Homo sapiens: one gene and its partners. The protein of the gene in region 1 interacts with the protein of each later gene in a biochemical or structural test. Each region holds a gene or a part of one and is shown in the gene's direction. Other genes may lie near its edges.

The links. Proteins that work in one complex are often made in the same cells at the same time.
Region 2: of the proteins of PRKAA1 (region 1) and RACK1, one has a biochemical effect on the other in vitro, tested with the Homo sapiens proteins (2 studies listed by BioGRID).
Region 3: the proteins of PRKAA1 (region 1) and MAGEA3 form a complex in vitro, tested with the Homo sapiens proteins (one study listed by BioGRID).

What each region holds. Positions count from the first base shown.
Region 1 is NC_000005.10:40,767,342-40,774,374, reverse strand, and holds part of PRKAA1 (5'-AMP-activated protein kinase catalytic subunit alpha-1), read left to right. Parts: intron 1-2,511; coding exon 2,512-2,656; intron 2,657-4,871; coding exon 4,872-4,959; intron 4,960-5,437; coding exon of another isoform or gene 5,438-5,492; exon of another isoform or gene 5,493-5,939; intron 5,940-6,684; coding exon 6,685-6,909; intron 6,910-7,033. UniProt on the Homo sapiens protein: Catalytic subunit of AMP-activated protein kinase (AMPK), an energy sensor protein kinase that plays a key role in regulating cellular energy metabolism.
Region 2 is NC_000005.10:181,236,368-181,240,910, reverse strand, and holds the end of RACK1 (small ribosomal subunit protein RACK1), read left to right. Parts: intron 1-1,328; coding exon 1,329-1,424; intron 1,425-1,733; coding exon 1,734-1,844; intron 1,845-2,671; coding exon 2,672-2,812; intron 2,813-3,191; coding exon 3,192-3,302; intron 3,303-3,868; coding exon 3,869-3,934; 3' UTR 3,935-4,014; downstream 4,015-4,543. UniProt on the Homo sapiens protein: Scaffolding protein involved in the recruitment, assembly and/or regulation of a variety of signaling molecules. Interacts with a wide variety of proteins and plays a role in many cellular processes.
Region 3 is NC_000023.11:152,694,780-152,701,822, forward strand, and holds the start of MAGEA3 (melanoma-associated antigen 3), read left to right. Parts: upstream 1-4,014; 5' UTR 4,015-4,050; exon of another isoform or gene 4,051-4,295; intron 4,296-4,426; exon of another isoform or gene 4,427-4,485; intron 4,486-4,526; exon of another isoform or gene 4,527-5,009; intron 5,010-5,778; exon of another isoform or gene 5,779-5,842; 5' UTR 5,843-5,908; intron 5,909-5,988; 5' UTR 5,989-6,053; coding exon 6,054-6,998; 3' UTR 6,999-7,043. UniProt on the Homo sapiens protein: Activator of ubiquitin ligase activity of RING-type zinc finger-containing E3 ubiquitin-protein ligases that acts as a repressor of autophagy. May enhance ubiquitin ligase activity of TRIM28 and stimulate p53/TP53 ubiquitination by TRIM28.

The sequences.
Region 1 (7,033 bases):
CATTTTTTTAGTCTGCTGTTATTTGCCTCACAGATATAATAACCTAGTCTGAGGATGGCATTTTAAAAAAAGTCTTCCTCTGTTCCGTCTTGTTCTGTACCTTCTGTGCTCTCTGCATTCATTTTATTCATTTTTGTCTTTGATGCATGGCCCTTCTTCAGATATTTGGTGATTCTTGGCTGTCCACTAAATATTTAAGAATAGGGTATTAAATGCCAGGCTCATGTGGGTAGGACTTACTGATTGCTGGGTTTTCTCATAGCTTGAATAGGTAGGGACTTGTCTGTTTTATTACTGTATACCAAATGCTAATAATAACAAATATGTTTTCTTGGATCAGATATTTGCTCCAGAAGAAACCTTCCCATTTCCTTAAAGGCCTTAGCTTAGCTGCCAGTGCTCCAGGAGCTGAGTGGAGAAAAGAGATGCAAGTCTCACTAGTTAGTATGTTGACTTTGTCTTAGCCCCCATGTTTTCCTTAGGATGCCTTATCCCTGCCTTGGTGTCCTTGAGAGCAGAGCTGGTTCAGCCTTACTAGAGTAAATTATAGGTCTTATTCCCCAATATGGGTGAGTTTAAAAGCTTCTTACTTCAAGCACTTGTCCTGTTTTCAGCTCATCTCTCACTTCTACCTTGAGCAGTTCCCTGTGTTTCCAATTTCTAAGGCTTCCCAGGCTTTGTATGCAGATGTTTATTTTTTACTGGTTTCTACCCCTATAGGCTTAGGTTTTAGCTTTCTCTTGTAGGCTTAGTCTTTATTACTGTTTATCTATTGTCATCCTTGGTGACTCCTCTTGATTACTGCTGTCTCTTTTGTTCTTTTTGTCTTTATATGCCTGTTTTATTGCTGATGTCATTTTAGTGATGTTTCAAGAGTTGGAGACAAAAGATTTAATCTGTTACATTTAATTGGAAATGTATTTTGACTTTTCTAACCTTCCTTTATAGACATCCCTTTCTCCATCCTTTGTAATTGTACTTGTTACTAATACAGTATAATTTTCATTTTTGTAGCCTGTCTATTTTACTTTTTATATTTTGTTTAATCAAGTTTTCTCCTATTTTTTCATATTTGAACAGATACTCTTTTTTTTCCCCATGAACCTACAAATCTAGAAATAAAAGTATTAGAATGCTAAAGGATTAGTATTTTTCTAGAGGAATGGTATCTTATAATAGTTTCTTGTTTCAAAATAAATTACTGATTTGTATTTTCTCCCATATTATCCATGCCCTTTAAGGTGTAAGTCTGGTTTTAGAATGCTAATTTGTGACCTGTGTTAGAGAATTGCATATTGGAGTCCTTCGCCTAGAGGATTAATAGCTTATTTATTAAATATGACTTCTTGGGAGCAGGCATGTCCAAGTAATGGCTGTCACTTATGTTGAAAAAAGTGGTAATAATATATGGATACATAGAGAAGTTTAAAAAAAATACTTCAGGCTGCATGCAGTGGCACATGTCTGTAATCTCAGCACTTTGGGATGCTGAAGCGGTAGATTGCCTGAGCTCAGGAGTTCGAGACCAGCCTGGGCAACATGGCAAAGTCCTGTCTCTATCAGAAATACAAAAATTAGTGGGCGTGGTGGCATGTGCCTGTGGTCCCAACTACTTAGGAGGCTGGGGTGGGAGGATTGCGGGACCCCAGGGAAGCCGAGGCTGCAGTGAGCCGTGATGGCATCACTGCACTCCAGCCTGGATGACAGAACGAGACTGGATCTCAAAATATAGATAAATTTAAAACCCCGCCCCCCCAAAAAAACACAAAAAACAAAAATGAAAAGGTAGTTGCTATGTAAGATTTTTTTTTTAGCAAGCATATTAAAGATAAAATGCTATGATATTTTATTAAATGAATTAAGGTGTTTGTTGTTAAAATGTCTTCTATTTTAGGACATATAGCAACATAGTTGCTTGCTGGTTTATGAATAGTGCTTAAATATTACTTCCTCATGGTCTAAAATAGTGTCCCTCACCCCACTATCACTCACTGCACCTATATTTTGCTTTATTTTTCTTCAAAACAGTATCACTCCTTCTGACTATATTTATTAGTCTATTTTCATCAACTAGATTAGCCTTTGTTTTATTCATTGCTGTGTAATGAGTGTCTAAAGCAATGTGTAGCACGTTGAAGGTATTCAGTAATTTGTTAAAAGAATGAAAGAGTAAACATTTGCCGCTTATAAAAGGAAATATGCCAAATTTCAAGTAGATATTGAAATTATTTGAAATAACTCATGAGATATAGAGGAAGGCAAGCTGTTACAATGTAGTCATATGCAAATGATAATATTAGAAACTTGAGTTACTGATTTGGGTTCCAAGACCATCTTAGCATTTCTGTTTTGTGCTGCAGGTATCTCCTCCTCATGTCAAAAGTATCTCATAAGTGAAGTTCATTGGGAAGATTTTCATGTATTTTGACAATTTTATAGGTTGGAGAATTATAGATAGGACAATTTACTTTGAAAGACACACCTTTAAAAAGCCTCTCTAACTTTTCTTAGCTGGATGAAAAAGAAAGTCGGCGTCTGTTCCAACAGATCCTTTCTGGTGTGGATTATTGTCACAGGCATATGGTGGTCCATAGAGATTTGAAACCTGAAAATGTCCTGCTTGATGCACACATGAATGCAAAGATAGCTGATTTTGGTAAGGATAATTTTATAGTTTCTTAACGTTCATTTCTAATGTTCTTATAGTTTCAATGAACCTACCTAGAATTCTTCAGATAACTGTAAAAGATTACATAAAGTAATAGACTGAGTATATCAAAGTATTCTGTTTTGTCTATGAAGATACAAAAAGAAGAAAAGCTAAGAAATCATCTTTTCTTAGCTTTAAATGTCTTTATTACTATTATTTTATAGAGGCAGGGTTTCGCTTTGTCGCCCAGGCTGGAGGGCAGCGACGTGATCATAGCTCACTGCATCCCCAAACTACTGGGCCAGGTGACCCTCCTGCCTCAGCCTCCTGAGTAGCTGGGACTGCAGGCGTGCACTACCATGCCAGGCTGTTTTGTCTTTTTGTAGAGACAAGTTCTCACTATGTTGTCCAGGCTGCTCTTGAACTCCTGGCCTCAAGTGATCTTCCTACCACAGCTTCCCAAAGTATTGGGATTACAGGTGTGCACCACTGCACCTGGCTCTTTAAATATCTTTAAAATTAAATTTTAAACAACTTAAGTTGGTAGTATTAGAGAGACTATTTGAAAAGAGTATTATTTGTGAAAGAGAAGGTAGCAGCTTTATTTCCAGTATGTTCAAAAGAATCAAGTATGGAGAAGAAGGAAAGTGAGTGGGATGGAATTATTTAAAACCTTAAAAACCAGAAGTGAACTATGTGAATTTAATTATTTAAAATTATTTAAAACAATTTTTTAATTAAAAAAATTTATTTAAAAATTTAAAAATGTTTTAAATGATAGTAAATTATAATTTGTTTAAAGAACATTTTGATTGTTAAAAATGAATTTATTTTGGCTGGGCGTGGTGGCTTATACCTGTAATCCCAGCATTTTGGGAGGCCGAGGCGGGCGGATCACCTGAGGTCAGGAGTTCGAGCCCAGCCTGGCCAACATGGTGAAAACCCATCTCTACTAAAAATACAAAATTAGCTGGGCATGGTGGTGCGTGCCTATAGTCCCCACTACCCTGGAGGCTGAGGCAGGAGAATTGCTGGAACCCAGGAGGTGGAGGTTGTAGTGAGTTGAGATCGCCTGTCCGGCCTGGGCGACGGAGTGAGACACGGTCTCAAAAAAAAAAAAAAAAAAAAAGAATTTATTTTTTCTGTATTTCCTATATAAATTGCCATTGACCTTACTAAACCTAAGAGAAAAAGGAATCTCTTCTTTTCTTTAGGTTGGTTTTAGTTCAAATCAGATAACTTTTTTTTGTTTGTTTTTTGTTTTGAGACAGAGTTTCACTCTGTCACCCAGGCTGGAGTGGTACGATCTCGGCTCACTGCAACCTCTGCCTTCCAGGCTCAAGTAATTCTCCCACCTTGGCCTCCCAAGTAGCTGGGACCACAGATGTGGGCCACCACATGCAGCTATGTTTTTTTTAATTTTTGGTGGAGATGGGGAATCACTATGTTGGCCAGGCCGGACTCGAACTCCTGAGCTGAAGTGATCCGCCTGTCTTGGCCTCCCAAAGTGCTGGGATTACAGGCGTGAGCCACCATGTCTGGCCCAGAGAACATTCTTATAAAAATTTTCCTCAGTTTTGACTACATCTATGTATCTATATCTATAACTATATCTATTTAAATGTTCAGAGATTAACTGGAAAATGCCAACCAAACCTGAGCTGGTTGTTTTGGTGTTTTGTTTTTTTTTAAAATAGTAATTGGCTAAATTATTTGAATTTCTTATTCCTCAGTTGATTATTTTTATAGGGTGCATTTTTGAGGGAGCAACAGTTTCTTTTTGGAGTAAAACTGTGAGGGAACTTTGAAATTCAAAATTACTGTTTTTTTTTTTTTTTTTTTTTTTAAAGAATCAGAACAGGCTTAATAGGAACTTTGAATTTTAATCCTTCTATTCATCTGTTATAGATTATTTTCCCTAGTGATTTCTGTATTAATAAAACTTAAACATGGCAAGTTTTTTCTAATAAGCAAAATAACCAACAGCTTAATATATTTGTATTAAACTCTAACAGTGCACTAACTTTAAATGTTGAAATAGATTACACATTTTAGGGCATAATGGCAGAATATTTGGCTACAATAGACCATAGGATTTTGTTGAAGCAAATAACAAAATGATGATTTATCATTTTAATGCAAACTCAATTTTATTGTTTAATGGGATTTTAATTTTTGTCTTTGGGAAATCTTTTGAGTAGCTGATTTTGTGCACTTTCAGGTCTTTCAAACATGATGTCAGATGGTGAATTTTTAAGAACAAGTTGTGGCTCACCCAACTATGCTGCACCAGAAGTAATTTCAGGAAGGTAGTATTTGATACCCTGCCTCCCTCAATACATTTGAAATTGTCTTTTTCTCCTAGATTTTGTTAGTCTATAGTGTCATATTTAATTCTAATGAAAGGAAAGAAAGATAAGGCTTATTCTTAACCACATTTATATGTGAATGAGGGTTAAGGACTACAAGTCAACATTATATTAAAGTTGTTAGAAGAGAGTACATTAATTTTTTTCCCAGGTGGAAGAAATGGAAAGTTTAAAACTAGGGTGTTTAAAAAGTAGGTAAGACACTGGAAACTTGAATAATACAGAAATATCTAGTAGTTAGAAAAGGATTACTATTTACTTAGAGGAAAAATTAAACATGTAATGTGTAGCTTTAATTTTTTACATAGATGGCATTTTGTAGTACCTTTATGTTTCATGATAAAATGTCTTGGGGAACTGGGCTGAAGTAATCTTTAGACTTCATTTATGTTGAATCTTTGTTCTTTAAACCTTTTAGAGACTGCAATATTATAAGAATTTTAACCTCTCAATTTACTAACTACCAGCATTGAGAACATGAAGATATTTGTACAGTGTCGCTTTTTGAATAGTTTGGAAAACAGGAGAATTTAATATTTTTAAGAATAACTCTTTGTCCTTCACTATACTACTGAAATTGAAAACAGAAGCTGAAGTTTGCTAGATTTATAATGAACTTTTAATAACTTTTCACCCAAACCATGCTTATTTGTGTGAATGTTTTGCATCTTGATTAACTCAATGCAGAAATACTGTAGTATTTTCTATTTTTATAAGCTTGTTGGCCTAGACTGCTCAAAGAAATGAGATTTGTGTAAAAATATGGCTGTGAGTAAGGCAGGAGTACCTAATTTTAGATTTGTCAAGTTTCATCTTTTTTTTAAATATTAACTTAATGTCAAAAATTATTTAAAAAATTTTTAAAAAAATGGTGTTGTCTATCTTAATTCTTTTAGGAATAAAACAATTCAGGACATGGAGACTGTGGAAAGTTGTTATTTAAATAAATAAAAAGAAATGTTATAACTGTGCATATATGCAATGGGCTATTACTGAAATTTAATTTTTCTAGTTTGGATAAAGTCTTTCTTCAAGCTCTTGGTGTATGAGAACTTTTACTTTCAAAATAATATTTATCGATCAGTTCAGCAGTACATAAATTTAAAGAAATCCTTTTCCTGAATCCAGGCTTTGAATGGGTGATCTAACTAGTCTGCAGCTAGTTAAGGCACTTGACTACAATGCACTGCAAACGGGATTTAAAAACTCTGTGAACCAATTTGCCTGGCTTTCTTTCACAGCCTCAGGATCCTTTCACCTTGGTGTAAGGGGTCTTGTGTTATTGGGATTGTGGGCTCAGAGTCCATTACTAAAGAACATTCTCAGTTGATGAAATATCACTTAATCTCTCCTCTGTAACAAAAACCAATGGTTTTAAATTGAATAGTGATATGTTTGTTCAAGATTTGGCCCTATTGTCAGATCCCATCAGGGCCATAGTAAATAGTAGAACAGAATTTTAGCCATGGTGTGTAATTTACAAACTTCTTGACTTTTGTTTTCAAAGATAATACTGATGGAATTAACGTTGTAACATGTAGTAGTGGCTATAAAAACCATATTCTGCTTAAGAATTCTTTATGAAATATCCATATTTGAAGTTTTTGATGAACTGAATCTTAGGTTAAAATGATTCTTTAATCCAATTGTTATTTCCTGTTACAGATTGTATGCAGGCCCAGAGGTAGATATATGGAGCAGTGGGGTTATTCTCTATGCTTTATTATGTGGAACCCTTCCATTTGATGATGACCATGTGCCAACTCTTTTTAAGAAGATATGTGATGGGATCTTCTATACCCCTCAATATTTAAATCCTTCTGTGATTAGCCTTTTGAAACATATGCTGCAGGTGGATCCCATGAAGAGGGCCACAATCAAAGATATCAGGTAATAAAGCAGTTTGGAAGTTATCAGATCTGATAGTATCCATGATAAAAGTTATGTGAAAAAAAAAAAGTTGCAGAACAGAATATACAGTGTAATCCTGTTTTTATGTGAAAAAAATAGAGTG
Region 2 (4,543 bases), about 140 Mb from region 1:
GTGATCTGCCCGCCTCAGCCTCCCAAAGTGCTGGGATTATAAGCGTGAGCCACCGTCCCCCGCTTTCTTTGCCTTTTTAAAGTCTTGTCTGGGCTGGGCTCACGCCTGTAATCCTAGCTCTCTGGTAGGCCAAGGTGGGAGGACTGCTTGAGGACAGGAGAGCAGCCTGGCCAACATAGTGAGACCCCATCTATTTAAACAAAATTTTATTTATTTTTTTTCTTTTTTGAGATGGATTCTGGGCTAGATCGCAGATTTGGGATCGCAGATTGGGGGCTGGATCGGGGATTTGGGGATGGGTGGGGGGCGGTGAAAAGGTGAAAGGGAGTTGCCGCAGCTCAGAAGCCGATGGTTGGGTGTCTGAGAAGATTACAGGCGTGTGCCATCATGCCCAGCTAATTTTTGTATTTTTAGTAGAGATGGGGTTTCACCATGTTGGCCAGGCTGGTCTCAAACTCCTGACCTCAGGTGATCCGCCCGCCTCAGCCTCCCAAACTGCTGTGATAACAGGCGTGAGTCACCGTGCCCGGCCTTATCACTACTATTTTGTTTTGTTTTGAGACAGTCTCATTCTGTCGCCCAGGCTGGAGTGCAGTAGTGCGATCTCGGCTCACTGCAAGCTCTGCTTCCCGGGTTCACGCCATTCTCCTGCCTCAGCCTCCCGAGTCGCTGGGACTACAGGCGCCTGCCATCAGGTCTGGCTAATTTTTTGTATTTTTAGTAGAGACAGGGTTTCACCATGTTAGCCAAGATGGTCTTGATCTCCTGACCTCATGATCCATCCACCTTGGCTTCCTAAAGTGCTGGGATTACAGGCGTGAGCCACCACACCAGGCCCTATTATTATTATTATATTTTTTTTGGAGATGAAGTTTCACTTGTTCGTTGCCCAGGCTGGAGTGCAATGGCACAATCTTGGCTCATTGCACCCTTCGCTTCCTGGGTTTAAGCAGTGTTCCTGCCTGAGCCTCCCCAGTAGCTGGGATTACAGGCACCCGCCGCCACACCTGGTTAATTTTTGTATTTTTGGTAGAGACAGGGTTTCACCATTTTGGCCAGGCTGGTCTCAAACTCCTGACCTCAGGTGATCCACTTACCTCGCCCTCCCTGGGATTAGAGGCGTGAGCTTCTGCGTCCAGCCACCATCTCTAAATTTTTAAAAAATTTTCTTGTCTGGAATCTAAAGGGATTCTATTGAGCTTAAAGGTTTGGGTTCTTGGTTTTTGAAAGGTGCTGCCAGCCATCATCCTACTGAGGGGTAGGGCTGGGAGGTCTAGCATTTCATGGGATAGGACTGTTTGCCCTAATTTCCTTTCCATCTTCTGTAGGATGAGAGCCACTCAGAGTGGGTGTCTTGTGTCCGCTTCTCGCCCAACAGCAGCAACCCTATCATCGTCTCCTGTGGCTGGGACAAGCTGGTCAAGGTGAGCGTCAAGCCAAGGCAGGGGCTTTACCAGTCAGGGTGTGCTCCCAGGTGGTCATACACTCCAAGTCCTGTGGAAAGCTTTGCAGATGCCCTCAGTTGACTCTTTCTCTTGTCACATGGTCTGATGTCCCTTGTAAGTCAGCACACTGCATTGGATATGTGTTATAATCTAACGTGAAGTGGCCAGGACATGTTACTGAATGAGAAATGGCTACCGTATCCAGAAGTGCCAAGCCCTTTTTTGTTGGGCCTGACCCTAGCTCATCAAGAGCTAGGATGTTCACCTGTCAACCGCACGTCTATGCAGGTATGGAACCTGGCTAACTGCAAGCTGAAGACCAACCACATTGGCCACACAGGCTATCTGAACACGGTGACTGTCTCTCCAGATGGATCCCTCTGTGCTTCTGGAGGCAAGGTATTTGGGGACAAGGCGTCTCCTACTCAGTGGAAGACAGCGTCATGGAAGGAGCACTTAGCCAGCGTCTCTAACGTAAAATGGCAAACATTAGCCAAGATGGTTTTAGGAGGATAATGAGATAATGGCAATCTGAGAATATGTTTCCAAAGATTACTTTCAGCAAATGACAGTTAAGGCATACTATCTGGAAGAAAAAGATGATTTTCTATAAGCCTGTGGGTTTTTTTTGTTGTTTTTTTGTTTGTTTGTTTTTTGTTTTTTTTTTGAGACGGAGTCTCACTCGGCTGCCAAGGCTGGAGTGCAGTGGCGCGATCTCGGCTCACTGCAACCATCTCCCGGGTTCAAGCAATTCTCCCATCTCAGCCTCCCGAGTAGCTAGGATTACAGGCACCCGCCATCACTCCTGGGTAATTTTTGTATGTTAGTAGAGAGGATTTTACCATGTTGGCCAGGCTGGTCTTGAACTCCTGACCTCAGGTGATCCGCCCACCTCGGCTTCCCAAAGTGCTGGGATTACAGGCATGAGCCACCGCACCCAGCCTAAAGTTGGTTTCTTGAAGCAGTTGATGAGATTGGGATCCTGGTTTTCAGAAATGATTGGAGTGATTTATGTAAGTTGGGAGGGGTTTTTTGATGGGGTTGGTAAGGTCTTACGTTAAAGGAAAGGTATACAGAGATAAATATTGGTACTTGAGTCATTAGCTTTCAAAGAAGCCTGGGGTAATGGAGGAAAGGTAAGAATTGATTCTGACAGAATCTTGAGATGGGCAGAATTAACATCTGGAAGAGGTCACAGTGTCCTGATTTACCTTACCTGTGTCCAGGATGGCCAGGCCATGTTATGGGATCTCAACGAAGGCAAACACCTTTACACGCTAGATGGTGGGGACATCATCAACGCCCTGTGCTTCAGCCCTAACCGCTACTGGCTGTGTGCTGCCACAGGCCCCAGCATCAAGATCTGGGTGAGTGTGGGTTACAATTGACTGGGTACCTGGCTGCACTCTGAGCCCTGGCAATGTTTTGGTTATTATATATGCCATCTGACTCCCACCTGGGAGCTAAGCTTTCTCAGCCTCCACGTAATGACATTTTGGTCTGAGTAACTCTGTTGTGGTGTGCAGTCCTGTACATTCCAGGATGTTTAGCAGCATTTCCAGCTTCTACTAGATGTCAGTAGCAAACCATCCTTCCACTAGTGGCAACTGAAAATGCATGTAGGCATTGATACATGGACCCCAGGGAGCAAAATCATCCCTTTTTAACTTGAGAATCTTGAGGGGCTTTTAAGAGGAGACTCTCTTGATTGGTAAGTCTTAAGGTTGCTTTTGCCCTGTTCCCCAGGATTTAGAGGGAAAGATCATTGTAGATGAACTGAAGCAAGAAGTTATCAGTACCAGCAGCAAGGCAGAACCACCCCAGTGCACCTCCCTGGCCTGGTCTGCTGATGGCCAGGTAAGTGGGTCTGTCCTCTCAGGTGATTCTGCTTCCAGTTAATTTTCTCCCTCTCATTCTGTTAGTATATCTAGTCTGTCAGACACAAGAGCAGTGTCCTTGGCATAAAGTGAAATGACAAGCCAGGTTGATGAGGATGCCCTCGTTTGCCATGCCAGTGAATGTGTTTCTGCATCAGAGGGAAGACTGATGTGGAACGCAGTGGCTGTCAGCCTTCAATTAATACCTTAATTAATCTGACCAGTTTTCAAATGTCTGGAGCCTTATCACCAGCTGTTTCTTCCTCAAGGAATACATAACCACCACTTACAAGCTGGCTGTTGAAATGAGAGCGGTTTCTTACAGTCTACCCGGCGTTGTGGCACATGCCTACTGGAGGCTGAGGTGGGAGGATCTCTTGAACTGCAGGGGCTTAAGGCTGTAGTGAGCCAGGATCGCACCCCTGCACTCCAGCCTAGACAATGGAGCAAGGTGGACGGATCTCAAAAAAAGCCACTTGGGCTGAATCTAGTGAGACTGCAGAATTTATGCCAGCCTGACCTGTCACTGTCATTTCTTCCCTGCAGACTCTGTTTGCTGGCTACACGGACAACCTGGTGCGAGTGTGGCAGGTGACCATTGGCACACGCTAGAAGTTTATGGCAGAGCTTTACAAATAAAAAAAAAACTGGCTTTTCTGACTTTTAGGTTTTTTTTTCTTATATGCAAAAAAGCTCCATTCTATCTACATTGCTTACACATTAAGTTTGCACTAGCGAACTGGATGCAAGGTATGGACTAAGTAAACAAGGCTTTGAAGGGGAGCTGTCCGTCTAAGTTCTCAGGATTGGGGTAGCATCAGGTGGGATGTTTGTGAGAAGTCACATAGCAGTTTCCCTGAACTTAAACCCCATCAGCGTCCTACATACCACGTGCAGATCATCAGGGCCTACCTTCAACCTGGGGAACCTTCTTGAGGGAAAGAACTGATTTCAAAGTGGTTGCAGTCAATTTTTAGAAAAAGCAGACTCCGCAGGTCCAACCCCTGACACGTAAGAGTGGAAGATGAATCCTCATTCCTCTAAAGATTTGAACATAATTCAGAAAACTTAAGCTTCATGTTAGCAGTCTCTGTCAACATGGTCTTTGAGGAAAGTCAAGGGTTTTTAATTCTTTAAGCAAGGCAGTTCTCACCAGAAGAACTTAATTCAAAACTAATTTATTCCTCAGGTCAAAAGTTTTGGGGTGGTTGGTCTGGAAGC
Region 3 (7,043 bases), on another chromosome or scaffold:
ATAAAAAAGTACTGAGAATCCGTTCTCATTAGATAACTGTGTACTAAAATGAGATACCACTACACACCTATTAGAATGTCCAAAATCCATAAAAAAGCAAAAAAAAAAAAAAAAAGAAAAGAAAACCAAGATCAATTGCCAGGGAAGATGTGGAGCAACAGAAACTCTCATTCATTGCTGGTGGAAATGCAACATGGTACAGCCACTTTGGAAGACAATTTGGCGTTTTCTTAAAAAACTGAACACAGCATAAGATTCAGCAGTCATAATCAATTTACCCAATTGACGTGAAAACTTACGTCTACATAAAAATTTGTATACGATTGTATACAAAAGATTATTTCATAATCACCAAAAATAGAAGCATCCAAAATGTATTTCATTTGGTGGATGGATATATATATACACACGCACTATGGTACAACCAGACAATGATACTACTACTCCTCAATGAAAAGGAATAAGTTCTGAGCCACACAAAGTTATACATGACTCTTCAGTTCATTATGCTAGGTGAAAGAAACCAGTCTAAAAAGGCTACATAGTATGCGAGTCTATTTATATGACATTCAGGAAAAGGCAAAATTATAAAGATGAAACACCTATCAGTGGCAGCCAAGGGGGTTATCTGACAAGCACAGGGGATTTATCAGGGCAGTGAAACTAGTATGGTAATACTGTAATGGTGGATGCATGCTTGCTTTCATCTGAATATTTGTGTTCCCACAAACTTCATCTGCTGAAATACCAAGGTGATGGTATTAGGTAGAAGGTGGGGTATTTGGAGAATGACTAGTTCATGAGAGCAGAGTCCTCATGAATGGGATCAGTGTTTTTATAAAATAGACTCCACAGAGATCCCTTGCCCCTTCTTCCATGTGAGGACATAGGGGAAAGGCAACTGTCTATGAACTAGGGAGCAGGTCTCCATCAGACATGAAATCTGCCAGCACCTTGATCTTGGACTTCCCAACCTCTAGAATGTGAGAAATAAAGTTGTGTTGTTTATAAGCCACCCAGTCTACACTATTTTTGTTATGGAAGCCCAAAGGGACTAAGACAACGGCACGAGGCATTTGTCAAAACCCATAGATCTTTACAGCACAAAGAGTGAAGCTTAATGTATGTAAAGTCTAAAAGTAACTTAAGAAGTTGGAGAATCATGGGACAGAATGTAGAATGTTACACACACACACAAACCTAGCTGTATTATACATGTATGAAACCACTACAGTGAAGCAAGTGGCGGGAAAGTTACCATATTTGGGTACTCCATCAAAGAAATATGTTTTTTATAAAGTATAAGTCGGCCAGATAAGCATGTAAAATAGTTGAATATTTGATAATCATTTATATAATTTTTCAGATATGAAAACTATTGGGATTCTGTTTAATAAAACGTCCTTATCTTTTAAAAATGCATATTGAGTTATTTCGAGATGAAATGGTCTAATGCCTTAGATTCGCTCCACGTTATTCCAGAAGCTGATGTGCAGGTAGGCAAGTGTCTAACTGGAACCAGATTTGCTGTGTATTTAAAGTTGTTCATGCTGGGTATCTAGTATCCTGGGTTCATTACATTAGTTCCTATTATTCTGTATGTGTGAAGGCTTTCCCTAGTAAAACTTTTTTTATAATAAATATGCCATTAAAAGTGAAATCCTAAATGAAACTGACCACTTTGTAGAAATAAAATAAACCAGTAACCAAACTGATCCAAAAAGAAAAAGAAAACTTTAATTAAACTATAAAAACTGAAACTGTACAATGTTCAAAGCTCAAGCCACCTTCAAACATTCCAGGTTAGGCAGTATTGGAGGCCAATTCTACCAAATGATCAGGGAAAACTAACCACCATCTTATCTCATCTCTTCTAGAACATACAAAATATTTACAATTGTTCAATTCATTCTTCCAGACTAGCCCTCCTGGATTCAAAAACCAGATGAGGACCACATCCCACCCTTGATGGGAAAAAAAGCACACATTAAGTAAGCTCCCTTACATAGCAGCAAATATCCTACGTAAATTACTAGCATATTAAATAAACAGGCTCTGCCCAAGGAAATAACATACGGTTTAACATTAGGGGAAAAAAAAAAAACGGTTTCATTGTAATTCCTTACATACAAAATGGAGGAGAAAAAAATTTGATTGTGTCAACGGGTACAGAAAAAGCTTTTTAAAGAAATTTAATATGAGTTCATGGTAAAAAAAAAAAAAGTATTTAACCTATATTCAAAGAGAAATTGCACTTCCTAAAATCAACAGCAAACATACTTAAATGCAAAACGTTCGAATAATTATCATTCACGTCAGGAACGAGAAGTAGATGTAGGCTATTATCTCTACGATTGAAATCAGGATTGAGACACAAAGAGCTATAAGTACCAAAATGAGTAAGTGGTATGAATACTGGAAGAATATGTAATGTTTAGTGATAATACCATTATCGATCTTGAAAATTCAAAGGAAAAGGTATGTGGAATATTCAAGTGCATCGGCCTTCAGAACGAGGAGTGCAACAGATTACTACAGCAAAATCAAAATCTTCACCTCACGAAAGCAATAACTAACTACAACAATTAATAGACAATATGCCATTTGCAATAGCAACAAAATTCATGAATTGCCTGAAAAGAAGTCTAATAAAAATGTATAAGGTCTTTATAGAGACAACTGTCGAAGTATACTGACATATTCAGGTAAAAAAAAGCTTGAAATACATAGAGGAGTATAACATATTCATTCATGGGGAGCACAACACTGTAAAAATGTAAACTCAGCTTAAATTATTTACAATTTAGTGCCTTACCTGTAGCCGCCGCCATTACAACAAATTTGGGCTGCTGTGCTCTGCTTCCCAAATCAAACCTGGAAAATTACAGAATGGAAACAGTAAATAAAAAACCAGTATCAGCAACAAAATCTACGCAACAAAACAGGGAAAGCCCAGGGTGAGACTCAAGGCTGTGTTGAGCTGGTACTTGTGTTTGACACTTGCAGTGTTGGTTGGAGGGGGTTAGCAGCAGGGATGTTGGGGAGGTTTGTAGCCGGCCTACACGGTAGATGACAGAATGGGTAGAATAAAAGTTTGAAATTTTCCACTTCACTTCTTTGCACAATCTGAGGCAGCCTCTGAAAACACGATGCCAAGAGCCCTAGGTAATAGCAGGACACCAGGAAAATTTGGTTGGTTAAGGCAGTATGACTCCAGAGTTCTGCTAATAACAACCTGAAACCACCATAGTGGCAGAGGAATTACATTTTTAAAAAAAAAAAATTCTTTCAACAGAACACAAAGACTGAAATAGGAGGTCACTACAACCGCGGGAGCTGCCGCCCCGCCCTGCAGGGAGCACCTGGCCTGGGACCCGCAGGCATTCTCTACAAGGGGTGCAGCTGTGCAAATGCTCACAGGTGACAGAAACAGAGCATCTCCTGCCCATCACTTCATCCAACAGCCAGAGGTGACGAAGACGACCCTCCTGAGTGAGGACTGAGGGTCCACACCGCCCCCCCACCCCACACACCATAGAGGGACCACAGAATCCAGCTCAGCCCCTCTTGTCAGCCCTGGTAAACGCAGGCAGTGATGTCACCCAGACCACACCCCTTCCCCCAATGCCACTTCAGGGGGACTCAGAGTCAGAGACTTGGTCTGAGGGGAGCAGAAGCAATCTGCAGAGGATGGCGGTCCAGGCTCAGCCAGGCATCAACTTCAGGACCCTGAGGGATGACCGAAGGCCCCGCCCACCCACCCCCAACTCCCCCGACCCCACCAGGATCTACAGCCTCAGGACCCCCGTCCCAATCCTTACCCCTTGCCCCATCACCATCTTCATGCTTACCTCCACCCCCATCCGATCCCCATCCAGGCAGAATCCAGTTCCACCCCTGCCCGGAACCCAGGGTAGTACCGTTGCCAGGATGTGACGCCACTGACTTGCGCATTGGAGGTCAGAAGACCGCGAGATTCTCGCCCTGAGCAACGAGCGACGGCCTGACGTCGGCGGAGGGAAGCCGGCCCAGGCTCGGTGAGGAGGCAAGGTAAGACGCTGAGGGAGGACTGAGGCGGGCCTCACCTCAGACAGAGGGCCTCAAATAATCCAGTGCTGCCTCTGCTGCCGGGCCTGGGCCACCCCGCAGGGGAAGACTTCCAGGCTGGGTCGCCACTACCTCACCCCGCCGACCCCCGCCGCTTTAGCCACGGGGAACTCTGGGGACAGAGCTTAATGTGGCCAGGGCAGGGCTGGTTAGAAGAGGTCAGGGCCCACGCTGTGGCAGGAATCAAGGTCAGGACCCCGAGAGGGAACTGAGGGCAGCCTAACCACCACCCTCACCACCATTCCCGTCCCCCAACACCAACCCCACCCCCATCCCCCATTCCCCATTCCCATCCCCACCCCCACCCCTATCCTGGCAGAATCCGGGCTTTGCCCCTGGTATCAAGTCACGGAAGCTCCGGGAATGGCGGCCAGGCACGTGAGTCCTGAGGTTCACATCTACGGCTAAGGGAGGGAAGGGGTTCGGTATCGCGAGTATGGCCGTTGGGAGGCAGCGAAAGGGCCCAGGCCCTCCTGGAAGACAGTGGAGTCCTGAGGGGACCCAGCATGCCAGGACAGGGGGCCCACTGTACCCCTGTCTCAAACCGAGGCACCTTTTCATTCGGCTACGGGAATCCTAGGGATGCAGACCCACTTCAGCAGGGGGTTGGGGCCCAGCCCTGCGAGGAGTCATGGGGAGGAAGAAGAGGGAGGACTGAGGGGACCTTGGAGTCCAGATCAGTGGCAACCTTGGGCTGGGGGATGCTGGGCACAGTGGCCAAATGTGCTCTGTGCTCATTGCGCCTTCAGGGTGACCAGAGAGTTGAGGGCTGTGGTCTGAAGAGTGGGACTTCAGGTCAGCAGAGGGAGGAATCCCAGGATCTGCAGGGCCCAAGGTGTACCCCCAAGGGGCCCCTATGTGGTGGACAGATGCAGTGGTCCTAGGATCTGCCAAGCATCCAGGTGAAGAGACTGAGGGAGGATTGAGGGTACCCCTGGGACAGAATGCGGACTGGGGGCCCCATAAAAATCTGCCCTGCTCCTGCTGTTACCTCAGAGAGCCTGGGCAGGGCTGTCAGCTGAGGTCCCTCCATTATCCTAGGATCACTGATGTCAGGGAAGGGGAAGCCTTGGTCTGAGGGGGCTGCACTCAGGGCAGTAGAGGGAGGCTCTCAGACCCTACTAGGAGTGGAGGTGAGGACCAAGCAGTCTCCTCACCCAGGGTACATGGACTTCAATAAATTTGGACATCTCTCGTTGTCCTTTCCGGGAGGACCTGGGAATGTATGGCCAGATGTGGGTCCCCTCATGTTTTTCTGTACCATATCAGGTATGTGAGTTCTTGACATGAGAGATTCTCAGGCCAGCAGAAGGGAGGGATTAGGCCCTATAAGGAGAAAGGTGAGGGCCCTGAGTGAGCACAGAGGGGATCCTCCACCCCAGTAGAGTGGGGACCTCACAGAGTCTGGCCAACCCTCCTGACAGTTCTGGGAATCCGTGGCTGCGTTTGCTGTCTGCACATTGGGGGCCCGTGGATTCCTCTCCCAGGAATCAGGAGCTCCAGGAACAAGGCAGTGAGGACTTGGTCTGAGGCAGTGTCCTCAGGTCACAGAGTAGAGGGGGCTCAGATAGTGCCAACGGTGAAGGTTTGCCTTGGATTCAAACCAAGGGCCCCACCTGCCCCAGAACACATGGACTCCAGAGCGCCTGGCCTCACCCTCAATACTTTCAGTCCTGCAGCCTCAGCATGCGCTGGCCGGATGTACCCTGAGGTGCCCTCTCACTTCCTCCTTCAGGTTCTGAGGGGACAGGCTGACCTGGAGGACCAGAGGCCCCCGGAGGAGCACTGAAGGAGAAGATCTGTAAGTAAGCCTTTGTTAGAGCCTCCAAGGTTCCATTCAGTACTCAGCTGAGGTCTCTCACATGCTCCCTCTCTCCCCAGGCCAGTGGGTCTCCATTGCCCAGCTCCTGCCCACACTCCCGCCTGTTGCCCTGACCAGAGTCATCATGCCTCTTGAGCAGAGGAGTCAGCACTGCAAGCCTGAAGAAGGCCTTGAGGCCCGAGGAGAGGCCCTGGGCCTGGTGGGTGCGCAGGCTCCTGCTACTGAGGAGCAGGAGGCTGCCTCCTCCTCTTCTACTCTAGTTGAAGTCACCCTGGGGGAGGTGCCTGCTGCCGAGTCACCAGATCCTCCCCAGAGTCCTCAGGGAGCCTCCAGCCTCCCCACTACCATGAACTACCCTCTCTGGAGCCAATCCTATGAGGACTCCAGCAACCAAGAAGAGGAGGGGCCAAGCACCTTCCCTGACCTGGAGTCCGAGTTCCAAGCAGCACTCAGTAGGAAGGTGGCCGAGTTGGTTCATTTTCTGCTCCTCAAGTATCGAGCCAGGGAGCCGGTCACAAAGGCAGAAATGCTGGGGAGTGTCGTCGGAAATTGGCAGTATTTCTTTCCTGTGATCTTCAGCAAAGCTTCCAGTTCCTTGCAGCTGGTCTTTGGCATCGAGCTGATGGAAGTGGACCCCATCGGCCACTTGTACATCTTTGCCACCTGCCTGGGCCTCTCCTACGATGGCCTGCTGGGTGACAATCAGATCATGCCCAAGGCAGGCCTCCTGATAATCGTCCTGGCCATAATCGCAAGAGAGGGCGACTGTGCCCCTGAGGAGAAAATCTGGGAGGAGCTGAGTGTGTTAGAGGTGTTTGAGGGGAGGGAAGACAGTATCTTGGGGGATCCCAAGAAGCTGCTCACCCAACATTTCGTGCAGGAAAACTACCTGGAGTACCGGCAGGTCCCCGGCAGTGATCCTGCATGTTATGAATTCCTGTGGGGTCCAAGGGCCCTCGTTGAAACCAGCTATGTGAAAGTCCTGCACCATATGGTAAAGATCAGTGGAGGACCTCACATTTCCTACCCACCCCTGCATGAGTGGGTTTTGAGAGAGGGGGAAGAGTGAGTCTGAGCACGAGTTGCAGCCAGGGCCAGTGGGAGGGGGTCTGGG